3 linked regions of the Homo sapiens genome follow. The protein of the gene in region 2 purifies or fractionates together with the protein of the main gene of each other region. This does not show direct contact. Each region holds a gene or a part of one and is shown on either strand. Other genes may lie near its edges. The genes, in order: AIFM1, ZNF462 and EHMT1.

Evidence for each region.
Region 1: the proteins of ZNF462 (region 2) and AIFM1 purify together in Homo sapiens (affinity purification with mass spectrometry; one large-scale study listed by BioGRID and IntAct). This does not show direct contact.
Region 3: the proteins of ZNF462 (region 2) and EHMT1 purify together in Homo sapiens (affinity purification with mass spectrometry; 3 studies listed by BioGRID and IntAct, with this or other methods). This does not show direct contact.

The regions. Positions count from the first base shown.
Region 1 is NC_000023.11:130,159,321-130,162,973, forward strand, and holds part of AIFM1 (apoptosis-inducing factor 1, mitochondrial isoform AIF precursor), read right to left. Parts: intron 1-3,653. UniProt on the Homo sapiens protein: Functions both as NADH oxidoreductase and as regulator of apoptosis.
Region 2 is NC_000009.12:107,006,088-107,009,740, forward strand, and holds part of ZNF462 (zinc finger protein 462), read left to right. Parts: intron 1-3,457; coding exon 3,458-3,581; intron 3,582-3,653. UniProt on the Homo sapiens protein: Zinc finger nuclear factor involved in transcription by regulating chromatin structure and organization. Involved in the pluripotency and differentiation of embryonic stem cells by regulating SOX2, POU5F1/OCT4, and NANOG.
Region 3 is NC_000009.12:137,779,413-137,783,065, reverse strand, and holds part of EHMT1 (histone-lysine N-methyltransferase EHMT1), read right to left. Parts: intron 3,432-3,653; coding exon 3,349-3,431; intron 776-3,348; coding exon 669-775; intron 1-668. UniProt on the Homo sapiens protein: Histone methyltransferase that specifically mono- and dimethylates 'Lys-9' of histone H3 (H3K9me1 and H3K9me2, respectively) in euchromatin.

The sequences.
Region 1 (3,653 bases), on a different chromosome or scaffold from region 2:
CTGCTTTTAGAACTCTTCATCACCACATGAAATAAAATGGTTGAGATTTGGAAATAATGACAAATCATGAAAATAAAAACGTGAGCGGGGCAGAAACTTATCTCAATCTGGGCAAGCTTTTGATTTTCAGAAGCTTACAAAAATAATGAACCATCAGAAGTAGAAAGTGGTAACTCTCAGAGCTTAGAAAATGAAACTGGTTAGGAAAAGTTCCATGTGATTTAGTTCAATGAATTTAGTTTGTCCTCCACCTCTACCCCTGGTTCATTTACTAAAAATAAATTTTTTTTGTTTTTGTTTTTCTTTTTTTTAATTCTGTTTATTCCTCCAGAAGACCCTAAATACAGACATTATAACAAATTTGTTTTAATATCATACTCATGTTTATTCTCCTTCTGCTTGCTTTTCACAAACTGATAATACTAACAGTGTAGATTTAGGAAAGTTCAGCAGCTTTTGTCTCAATTTGCCAAAAAAAAAAGAAAAAAGCATTTAAAAGTAAATGGACTTTTTTTTTTTGAGACAGGGTCTCACTCTGTCCCCAAGCTGGAGTGCAGTGGCACAATCTCGGCTCACTGCAACCTATGCTTCCTGGGCTCAAGCCATTCACCAGCCTCAGCCTCCTGTGTAGCTGGGACTACAGGCGTGAGCCACCAACGCCCAGCTAATTTTTCTATTTTTTGTAGATACGAGGTTTCACCATGTTGTCCAGGCTGGAAAAGTAAATTGACTTTAAAAAAAAGTAAACTGGTTAATATTTAAACTACTGCTTGAAAAGAAATGTAATACACTACTCTCATTAATAAACCAACTTTTAAAACTTTTTATATACCTACAAAGTGACTTTAATTTTGTAAAATGTACTAAGTATTGTTTGCTTACATTCCCCCTCCCCACATTTTCTTTTCCCTATGAAATTCCTCCCAAACCTTTCTCCCCATAGCTTCAAAATTTTAGGAAATATTACATCGTGACTGAAACATGCCTTTTCACTTGTCTTACTAACATGGAAAAGCCAACTTACTCCTTGACTTTTCATCATGGCAGCAGTTTACTTATTTTAGGTTTTCTGCAGTCAGACCACACATACAATGCAATTTCTTCCTCACACTTAGGATTTCATTCTTAAGAAGCCAGTTTGACCTGTGCAACAGCGCCAGACGACACACAGATGTTTGCTCAATAAATATTTGTTGAATTAATGAAGGAAGGAAATAGAAATTCTTCCTAATTCTATTGATATTGACTGAACATTCTTATTACTATTAAAATTTTTTTTAAATGAAAAGGTATCAGTATGTTGCCCAGACTAGACTCAAACTCCTGGGCTCAAGTGATCCTTCCACCTTAGCCTCCAGAATAGCTGGGACTACAGGCATGCACCATCGTGCCCGGATAACTGAACATTTTAAATAATTCTTTGCAAAGAAATTTTAGCCAGGGCAGGCGCGGTGGCTCACATCTGTAATCCCAGCACCTTGGGAGGCCGAGGTTGGTGGATCACTTGAGACCACGAGTTTGAGACCAGCCTGGCCAACATGGTGAAACCCCGTCTCTACTTAAAAATAAATAAATAAATAAATAAATAAATAAATAAAATGAAAAAATAAACTTAAGAGTTTTTTTTAAAAAAAGCTTTAGCCAGATTCCATTTATTTTAGGTTGCTTAATCATAAATGAGTAACCTCAAACACCATAGACCAGCATTAGAATAGTAGCTAAACTAGCAAGTTCATTTCTGTAGGTTTTGTGATTTCCTGTTTTTCCATACTCCCAAAAGGCGTTTTCCAAAAACACAACTTCACAATTGAGGCACCCAGGGATCCTAAATGGTTAAGAGATCTATACGTTCTTGAGACTTGTTTCCTGAGGGTCAAACTGATTTTTCCAGCATGGAGAAAACACAGGACAGCCAGGTGCGGTGGCTCACACTTGTAATCCCAGCACTTTGGGAGGCCGAGGTGGGCGGATCACGAGGTCAGGAGTTCGAGACCAGCCTGGCCAATACAGTGAAACCCCGTCTCCACTAAAAATACAAAAATTAGCTGGGCGTGGTGGCAGGTGCCTGTAATCCCAGCTACTCGGGAGGCTGAGGCAGGAGAATCACTTGAACCCAGGAGACAGAGGTTGCAGTGAGCTGAGATTGTGTCACTGCACTCCAGCCTGGGCAACAGAGCAAGACTCTGTTTGAAGAAAAAAAAAAAAAAAAAAACACAGGACAAGCCTAGATAGTCTGTCCATTGTAGATAAATGATTCTTTACAAGGGATCCAACAACTATTTATCAGCCTTTTTTTTTTTTTTTTGAGACAGATTCTCGCTCTGTCGTCCAGGCTGGAGTGCAGTGGTGTGATCTCGGTTCACCGCAACCTCCACTTCCCGGGTTCAAGCAATTCTCCTGCCTCAGCCTCCCGAGTAGCAGGGATTACAGGCATGTGCCACCACGCTTGGCTAATTTTTGATTTTTAGTAGAGACGGGGTTTCTCCATGTTGGTCAGGCTGGTCTTGAACTTCCAACCTCAAGTGATCTGCCCACCTTGGCATACCAAAGTGCTGGGATTACAGGCGTGAGCCACCACGCCTAGCTATCAGCCTTTTTTAATTTTTTAATATCAACCCTTGCTGGAATTTTAGAAGAAACAGAGTAGTAATAACTATAGTACAGCGTGAACCATTCTGATGAAAGACACACAAGGAAAAATTATTTAGATAACAAAATAAAATCTCTCTTCTGCAAAGTTAAGTCCTTCACAATGCTGTACTAGGGTTCAGTCACGAGAATTTACCATGTGCCAGAGATGGTACAAGATGCTAAGGACACAAAAATAAATAGGACATAATCCATGTCCTCAGGTAGTGTTTAATTTAGGAGAATGGCTGCTACTATTCTGAATATGAGAAAATGAGCTTGATACAAATCACAAGAGACTCCAGATTGCTCAGTTTGGTTTTTTAATCCTTACGTCAGCAAAACAGAAGGGGAAGAGTCACTACTCATCCAAAACAGTATATACCAAACTTGTCTGATCATATGAATGTCAAGGGGCTTGTTAAAATACAGATTCCCAGAATTATCTCCTGGAGAAGGTTAGGAACTGGTTCTCTACTCGATTCACATGAGCAGGCAACTTTTGGAAACATGATCTAGAAGAAAGCTAAGACATGCAGTAACTCCCTCAAAAAGTTAGAACATTTCTAGAAAATGTAACTTATTAACTGGTTACAGAAAGGGCTGAGCTGCCAAAGAATTTCTTCTGCAAAGCCTTGTCTCAGCAGAAACAACGGGGGAAGACTCATCTTTTAGGCTTCAAAACGAAGTCACATTTGGCAGTGTCCAGGAAGCCAGGATCCTTGCCCACAAGGAGCTCAGTTTCCTTTTTAAAGAGGTGAGAAGGATTCCAAATAGAGAAAAACGTTCAAACATTTGAACCTAAAGTCAGGGAGTCGGTGATCAGTTTGATAACATGGGCAGCACTGTTTGGTGACCAAACAAAATATTATAGAACAGAAAATGTCTATTATCTAACCTATCTGCTCCTCTGTGTCTGAATGCAGACATAGAGTGATGACTATGAGTTACCTTCAATCATCTCTGGAAGGAGGCAGAGCATCCAAATAAATAAAGTAAATAAACAAATAGTAGCTATCATGGTT
Region 2 (3,653 bases):
TTTGTAGTCAACTTTGAAGTCGGGTAGGGTGGTGCCTCCAACTTCGTTCTGTTTGTTTAAGATTTCTTTGGCTATCCAGGGTGTGGTTCCATGGGTTGTTGTAAAGATTAAATGAGATAACACAGAAGACCTTCACCCAGTTCCTAGAATATAACAATCACCTAATAAATGATAAGCCTGCAATGTAGGTGTTATTTTTGTGATTTCACAAATGGGAAAATAAGGACCCAGGAAATTTAAGAGCATGTTCAAAGTAAAAAACAAAACAAACAAACAAACAACAACAAAAAATATAAACCCTGGAGACCAAATTCAATTCAAATTTACATCTTCTGGCTCCAAAGGCAAGCCCTCTTCTTACCCTGCACACCACTTTCCCAGTGCTTCGAGTAGTGTAATCTTCACTGAAGGGGACCTGACCCTGAAATCTGTGGATTCAGTGGCCCTTGGGACCTTGCTGTAAGGAGCAGTTTTGCAGAATTTCTTTGTGTTTTCTGCTTGTTCTGTCTGCAAACATTAAGGAAGCCTATTGGTGGGCTACTTCCCTCCAAGGTGTTCCCTGTTCCTTTTCCTGACTTGCACTCACCCTCCTACCATGATGCCAGGGCTAAAGACTATGGGTTTGCGAAGGGGGCCCCAGTTTGGCTCTTGAACCCCTGACCAAGACAGTCAGCAGGAAATGACAGCCAAGGTACACTACCCTTTCAAAAACCCTGTGCCTGTATTAACCTGAAAAATACATGGACAAATAAAACATCCTTACCATATAGGTTGATTGTTCTTATAAAGTTATTATTTTTATTAGTAGAGGCTGTATTAATCCATTTCTTACAAGGAAAACGGTTGTGATCGGAGAAGCATGGCTTCTTTCTTTTTTCTTTTTCAAACCATTTCATGAGTATGTTCTTTACAATGATTTCTTAACATCTCTGCACTGTTACCGGAGTTTTCTGGGAGAGGATACTTTTGACAGAAAGACTCCTTTTTCTTCATGACGCTCTGTGGCCTTGCCTTTTCTCCTCTGGAAATAAACTGTTTCTCATTGGATATTATTATGGCTTTTTAATCTCTAAAGCTGAGCATGTGTGATTTCAAAGGTTATAAGCATTATAAAGGCAAAATACCCTTCTAGGCTTCTGCTCCCCTATGACTCCTTATAAAAAAGAAAAGGAAAGAAAGAAAACTCGAATTTAAAACATGGTGGTTGAGATGTGTGTGGTATACCAGGCAGACCTCCTTATTTTACCCTACTTGGCAGCCCCCTTTTACTTGGCACTGTGGCATTACACTGGAGTGGTTTGGCTGGAAAGAACTTCAGGGTCTCCTCTTCTCACTGGAAAAAGTATAGTGTCCACATTCGTGAGCTTTACCACATGGGGGAACAAAAAGCCCTCAGGGTGGAGAAGCACGTATTCCTCTCAGAGGGTGGGGGATTTACATGAGTAACTTCCAGTCACATTAATGGGAATTACAAGCCTAAACCTTCCCTTCCCCCTCGCCGATCCTTGAAAGAGCAGCCTCCTTTGTCCCATCTCTCCTTTGAATAGACCAAGAATCAACTTTCCACCATCTAGGTGTATTCTTGGCAGGAAAAAGAAATACACACAATAGCCTCGGGTGTTTCTGCTAGACATCCCAGCTTCTAGGAGCAGAGGGCAGGAGGTGGCTTGCGTGCAGCTCTCAGGCTGGTGGAGAGCTCTTGGAAGTGTGGCCAGTGCCCAGTGGCCTCCTCCTTTGAGGATGGAACTTAGTATGTGCCATTGGAAAGGACAGATGACTGGTTTCCTATTTACAGATTAAGGGTAAAGAAACAAGTGTACCAGGAACATTATTCCTCTTGTTGGCAATTTAGACTTTTATCAGACACCCTCAGTTTAGGGGGTTCACAGCCTCGCAGCCACCCCACTCCCTACCTCCTTTCTAAATGCAAGTGCCGGACTGAATATGGACACGCTGCAGGTCCTGCCTAGGAAGCTCAGGGAAGATTTGAAAGAGAAGAATCCAGGCATGAAGAAATCAAAATTAACCCAAGCAGAATCCTCCCCACCCCCCTCTCATTATGCAGTTGGGGAGGAGTCAGGAAGGCATTCTGTTGATTTCTTGCCCAAGATAATCCCTGCTAAGGAATTAATGCGCAGAGCAGATGGTGCTGTCTCATTTCCAATGAAAAGAATCAAGGAAGATAGTCTGTGCAATTATTTTTAATGGCTTGTGTGGTGATCTTCTTAATTTGTGAGAAAATGTTTCATCTTTTGTTAAATCTGGCCCCAGTCACATAGCTGTTTGTGCTGAAGATTAAGGCATCACAGAGCCCCCCATCCTGTTAACATCGTCCTGAGAATCTTATTAGATGGGGCATTTCAACCAGGAGGCATCTTCCTGTAATGTCTTGTATGTGTGGACCAGAGTGATCAGAGTGTAAAGATGATCAACACTTCCCTGTGCGATGCCCTCACTTTGCAACACGGCTGCAGAACTGGCAAGGTCCTGCTGTTTATTACCTACATGAAGACTTGGCCCTCTGTGGTATAATGAAACACATATGGGCTAGGAACTCGGGCTAACACAATGGCCATATAATCTCTTATCTTTGAGTTTGCCAGGAGACGTGGCCTGAAAACAGTTAAACAGCCAATCCACATTTATCAGACTTCTACCATGTGCCTAGTACCATGGAGGAAACAAAACAACTAAGTCAATATTTGATGTTTACAACAGACCGTCCAGAAATGTCTGCATATCCCCGTATTCATGAATACCACCAATTGAGGGGTAGGTGCCAGGCAGCTGGCCAGGATCTCTCAATAGCAGGGGACATGTGTTCACATACTGGTTCCCACTCATCCAGATAAATGTTCATGGTAGATTCTTCGCTTGCAGATCTCATTCAGTGCACATAACCGCCCTGTAAGGTATTGATTATAATGTCTATGATGGATGACCACAAGTCATGAGCCTTCAGCCTTACTTGGAACAAGTAGAAACCCTGAGGTCCACAACACATAACCTGGTCCAGGGCTTTCGGTAGCCTATGTTCTTTTCAGTGAACAAAGATAAACCTGTGTCAAAAAGGAAATGAATAGATGCTAGCCTGTGAGGCACTGATATAAATCATCACACAAGGGAGAGAATAAATCGGAAAAAATAATGCTCAGATTCCTTTGGAATCTCGGGCAAGCGGCTCTTCAGTCAAGAAAGACCCAGATTTTGTGATAGAAGCATTGGGGAGGTGAGGCGAAATGAGGTCTTGGGGCCCAAGAACCAGAAACAGTTCTCGAATGCTATTCAAGGAATGCCCTAAGGGGGAAACCTAAGAAAAAGTGAGGAATCTGGAAATTGCTTTCACCACATGGCTTTATCAGTGAAGGTAGGAGAGAGGGTATCCTAATGAATGCTGACTTACCTATTCTGCTGATTCCCACAGCACACAGGTAACACTTCTGCTTTCTCTTTGCAGAGCTGATGAGATTTTCTGACCACGGGGCTGCTCTTAACACTGAGAAGCGTTTTCCATGTGAATTTTGTGGACGGGCGTTTTCACAGGGCTCTGAGTGGGAAAGACATGTGCTGAGACACGGCATGTAAGTTGGGCCACTTCAAGGATGCCTTTGTCCAAAGCAAGAGGTAGGGAGGGAGGGAGGGGCTCTTGTTTT
Region 3 (3,653 bases), about 31 Mb from region 2:
TCCTAAAGTCTCCAGAAATAATAGGTCACACACAAAGGATCAGAAGTCAGACTGCACCAGACTCAAACCTGGCACTTGAGAAACAGGGGATCCAACACCGGGATCAGGGAAGGGGCGTCACAGGGGGACAAACAGCGTCGTGTGTCTGAACCCAGAGACAAGCGGGCAGCGTTCAGATGGTTCAGAATAAATTAGCAGGTGGCAGAGTCAACTCAACCAACAGAAACACAAGCCAGTGATTAACGACAGACACAACATACCCTGTAGACGACGTGGTTCAGCTTGAAAATGCTCACACGATCTGATCTAAACAAAATGGGAGCCAGTCAACGGGGCTGGGGGAGGGGCGTCCGTGCCTCTGCGAGTGCTTGGCTCCCCCAGAGGGACGTCATGAGTGTGAAGAACCAAAACCAAAACCAAAGAAAGCAAATCAAGAAACAGCCAAATGGCGGCATGCTCTTCTCAAAGGCCGTGGTAAATGCCGGAAGAAACAGCGGGAAGCACTGATCCACCTGCAGGACTCGGGGGCAGAAAAGCTGACTCTGTGCCCGATTCACAGCACTACGGAACTCTTACACTGGAAGAACCGCGAACGTGGTATGATTTTACTTTGGTAAAAATAAAAGAGAGCAGGTGAAGAGCCCTAGGAGGGCGCCGTGCCGCCGCACCTGAACCAGCATGTGGCAGATGTCCACGTGTCCAGCCTCTGCCGCGGCGTGCAGTGGAGAGCGCTTATTCTGGTGCTCCATTTTGAAGTTGGGGTCAATTCCGTCCACTGTGAACAAACACAGTTTTATTAATGATTTCAGATGTAGCCACAGACTCCAGCTCAGGACTGTCACGATGGCTGGCAAGCACTCACAAATGACCATCCTCCACATAAACAGCCACCTCGAGCCACGCCGGAACCCGCCCACAGCACCATCCTCTGGACTTGAGACTTGAGTGTGCTAGTCTCCTGCGGAATTGAACAGGCAGGTCCCTCTGTCAGAACTAACTCGGCAAGGCACGCTCTTCCCTTTACCACCCTGCTCTAACTCTGAGGTTCCTTCTGTGTTTCTGTGTGGCCTGGCCATGGCCGCCCCAGGCCCAGTGAGGCGGCTGACCAGGGCAGACACACCCTAGGGGAGCAAGCAAGGCCGGGGACAGAGGCCTGAGCATCGGTCAATTCCCAGGAGGTCTGAGAGGACGGTGAGCAACGGAGCAGTGAGGTGACCTTCACAGGTGTCCTGTGAAGTCCATGACAAAATGATTAAAACTGCTGGTCAACATAAATAAACCTTTCTTTAAAAGCAAATAGTTTCACTTCTTTTTACTTGACGTACTGTCCAGTAAAGGGCTTCTTAATCATCCTTTTCAACCCAGAGACGATGAACGTCAGAGAAATCAAGCCTAAAGCTATGAGCTCAGAGACCAAATTATCACTGGGAAGGCTCTCTAACAAGTATGCTTTTGCGTATTAGAAATCTAATGCAATCGGTTTGCCTGTTATAAAATACCTATAGCTGAAGCCTACTTTGTCCACACCACAGCTGCTGCGATCAGCACAGGTGAAACATCGACTGCCGTCATCACCACACATTCCAGCGTCATGACCACACATCTCAGCATCATCACCGCATATCCCAGCGTCATCACCACACATCTCAGCATCATCACCACACATCCCAGCGTCATCACCACACATCCCAGCGTCATCACCACACGTCTCAGCGTCATCACCACACGTCTCAGCGTCATCACCACACATCTCAGTGATGCCGTCATCACCACACATCTCAGCGTCATCACCACACGTCCCAGCGTCGTCACCACACGTCCCAGCGTCGTCACCACACGTCCCAGCGTCGTCACCACACGTCTCAGCGTCGTCACCACACGTCCCAGCGTCATCACCACACGTCTCAGCGTCATCACCACACGTCTCAGTGATGCCGTCATCACCACACATCTCAGCGTCATCACCACACATCCCAGCGTCATCACCACACATCCCGGCGTCATCACCACACGTCTCGGCGTCATCACCACACGTCTCGGCGTCATCACCACACATCCCGGCGTCATCACCACACATCCCAGCGTCATCACCACACGTCTCAGCGTCATCACCACACATCTCAGTGATGCCGTCATCACCACACATCTCAGCGTCATCACCACACATCCCAGCGTCATCACCACACATCCCGGCGTCATCACCACACGTCTCGGCGTCATCACCACACGTCTCGGCGTCATCACCACACATCTCAGTGAGATGCCGTCATCACCACACATCTCAGCGTCATCACCACACATCCCAGCGTCATCACCACACATCCCAGTGTCATCACCACACATACCGGCGTCATCACCACACGTCTCGGCGTCATCACCACACGTCTCGGCGTCATCACCACACATCTCAGTGAGATGCCGTCATCACCACACATCTCAGCGTCATCACCACACATCCCAGCGTCATCACCACACATCCCAGCGTCATCACCACACATCTCAGTGATGCCATCACCACACATCTCAGCGTCATCACCACACATCCCAGCGTCATCACCACACGTCTCAGCGTCATCACCACACGTCTCAGCGTCATCACCACACATCTCAGTGATGCCGTCATCACCACACATCTCAGCGTCATCACCACACATCCCAGCGTCATCACCACACATCCCAGCGTCATCACACGTCTCAGCGTCATCACCACACGTCTCAGCGTCATCACCACACATCTCAGTGATGCCGTCATCACCACACATCTCAGCGTCATCACCACACATCCCAGCATCATCACCACACATCCCAGCGTCATCACCACACATCCCAGCGTCATCACATCTCAGCGTCATCACCACACATCTCAGCGTCATCACCACACATCTCAGTGATGCCGTCATCACCACACATCTCAGCGTCATCACCACACATCTCAGCGTCATCACCACACATCCCAGCGTCATCACATCTCAGCATCATCACCATACATCTCAGCGTCATCACCACACATCTCAGCGTCATCACCACACATCTCAGGGCCACAACTCACTAGTTTTGCTTTTCCTTAATCTCTATTTCTGCTTGATTTAATAATCACATACCAATTCCTTTTTAAAAATTAGAACTTCGTAGAGAATAGTTCTAATATCTTGCGTAACTGGATATGAACACCATAAAAAGCCTCAACACCAGTGGGCAACCTATTCTCACTCATCAGAGAACTCGGAGACACAGAAACAGAAAACCAAAACGAGACCAGCCTCCTGAGGAAGGAGTAACAACTGCTCTCGGCTTCTTTCAGTGCCACAGGGCCGGCTGCATGTGCCCGGGCCGCAGGAAGGCACTTACCCAGCATGAGGAGCACCTTCTGAAGCTCCCCTTGCCTGGCGGAGAAGTACAGCTGCTTTGGGTGGAAGCGAAGCTTCTTGGGTCTGTGGGAAGCACAAGACAACAGTCAGCATGGGGCTCTGCATCCCACACATGAAGCTGAAGGCTGGAAGGCCCGGCGGACATCTCCCCACCAGCCCCTCAAGCTCATGGGGCTCCGCGTCCCACACATGAAGCTGAAGGCTGGAAGGCCCGGCAGACGTCTGCCCACCAGCCCCACAAGCTCAAGTGCAAACCCACCAGTCGAGATATCTCATGGTAAAAAC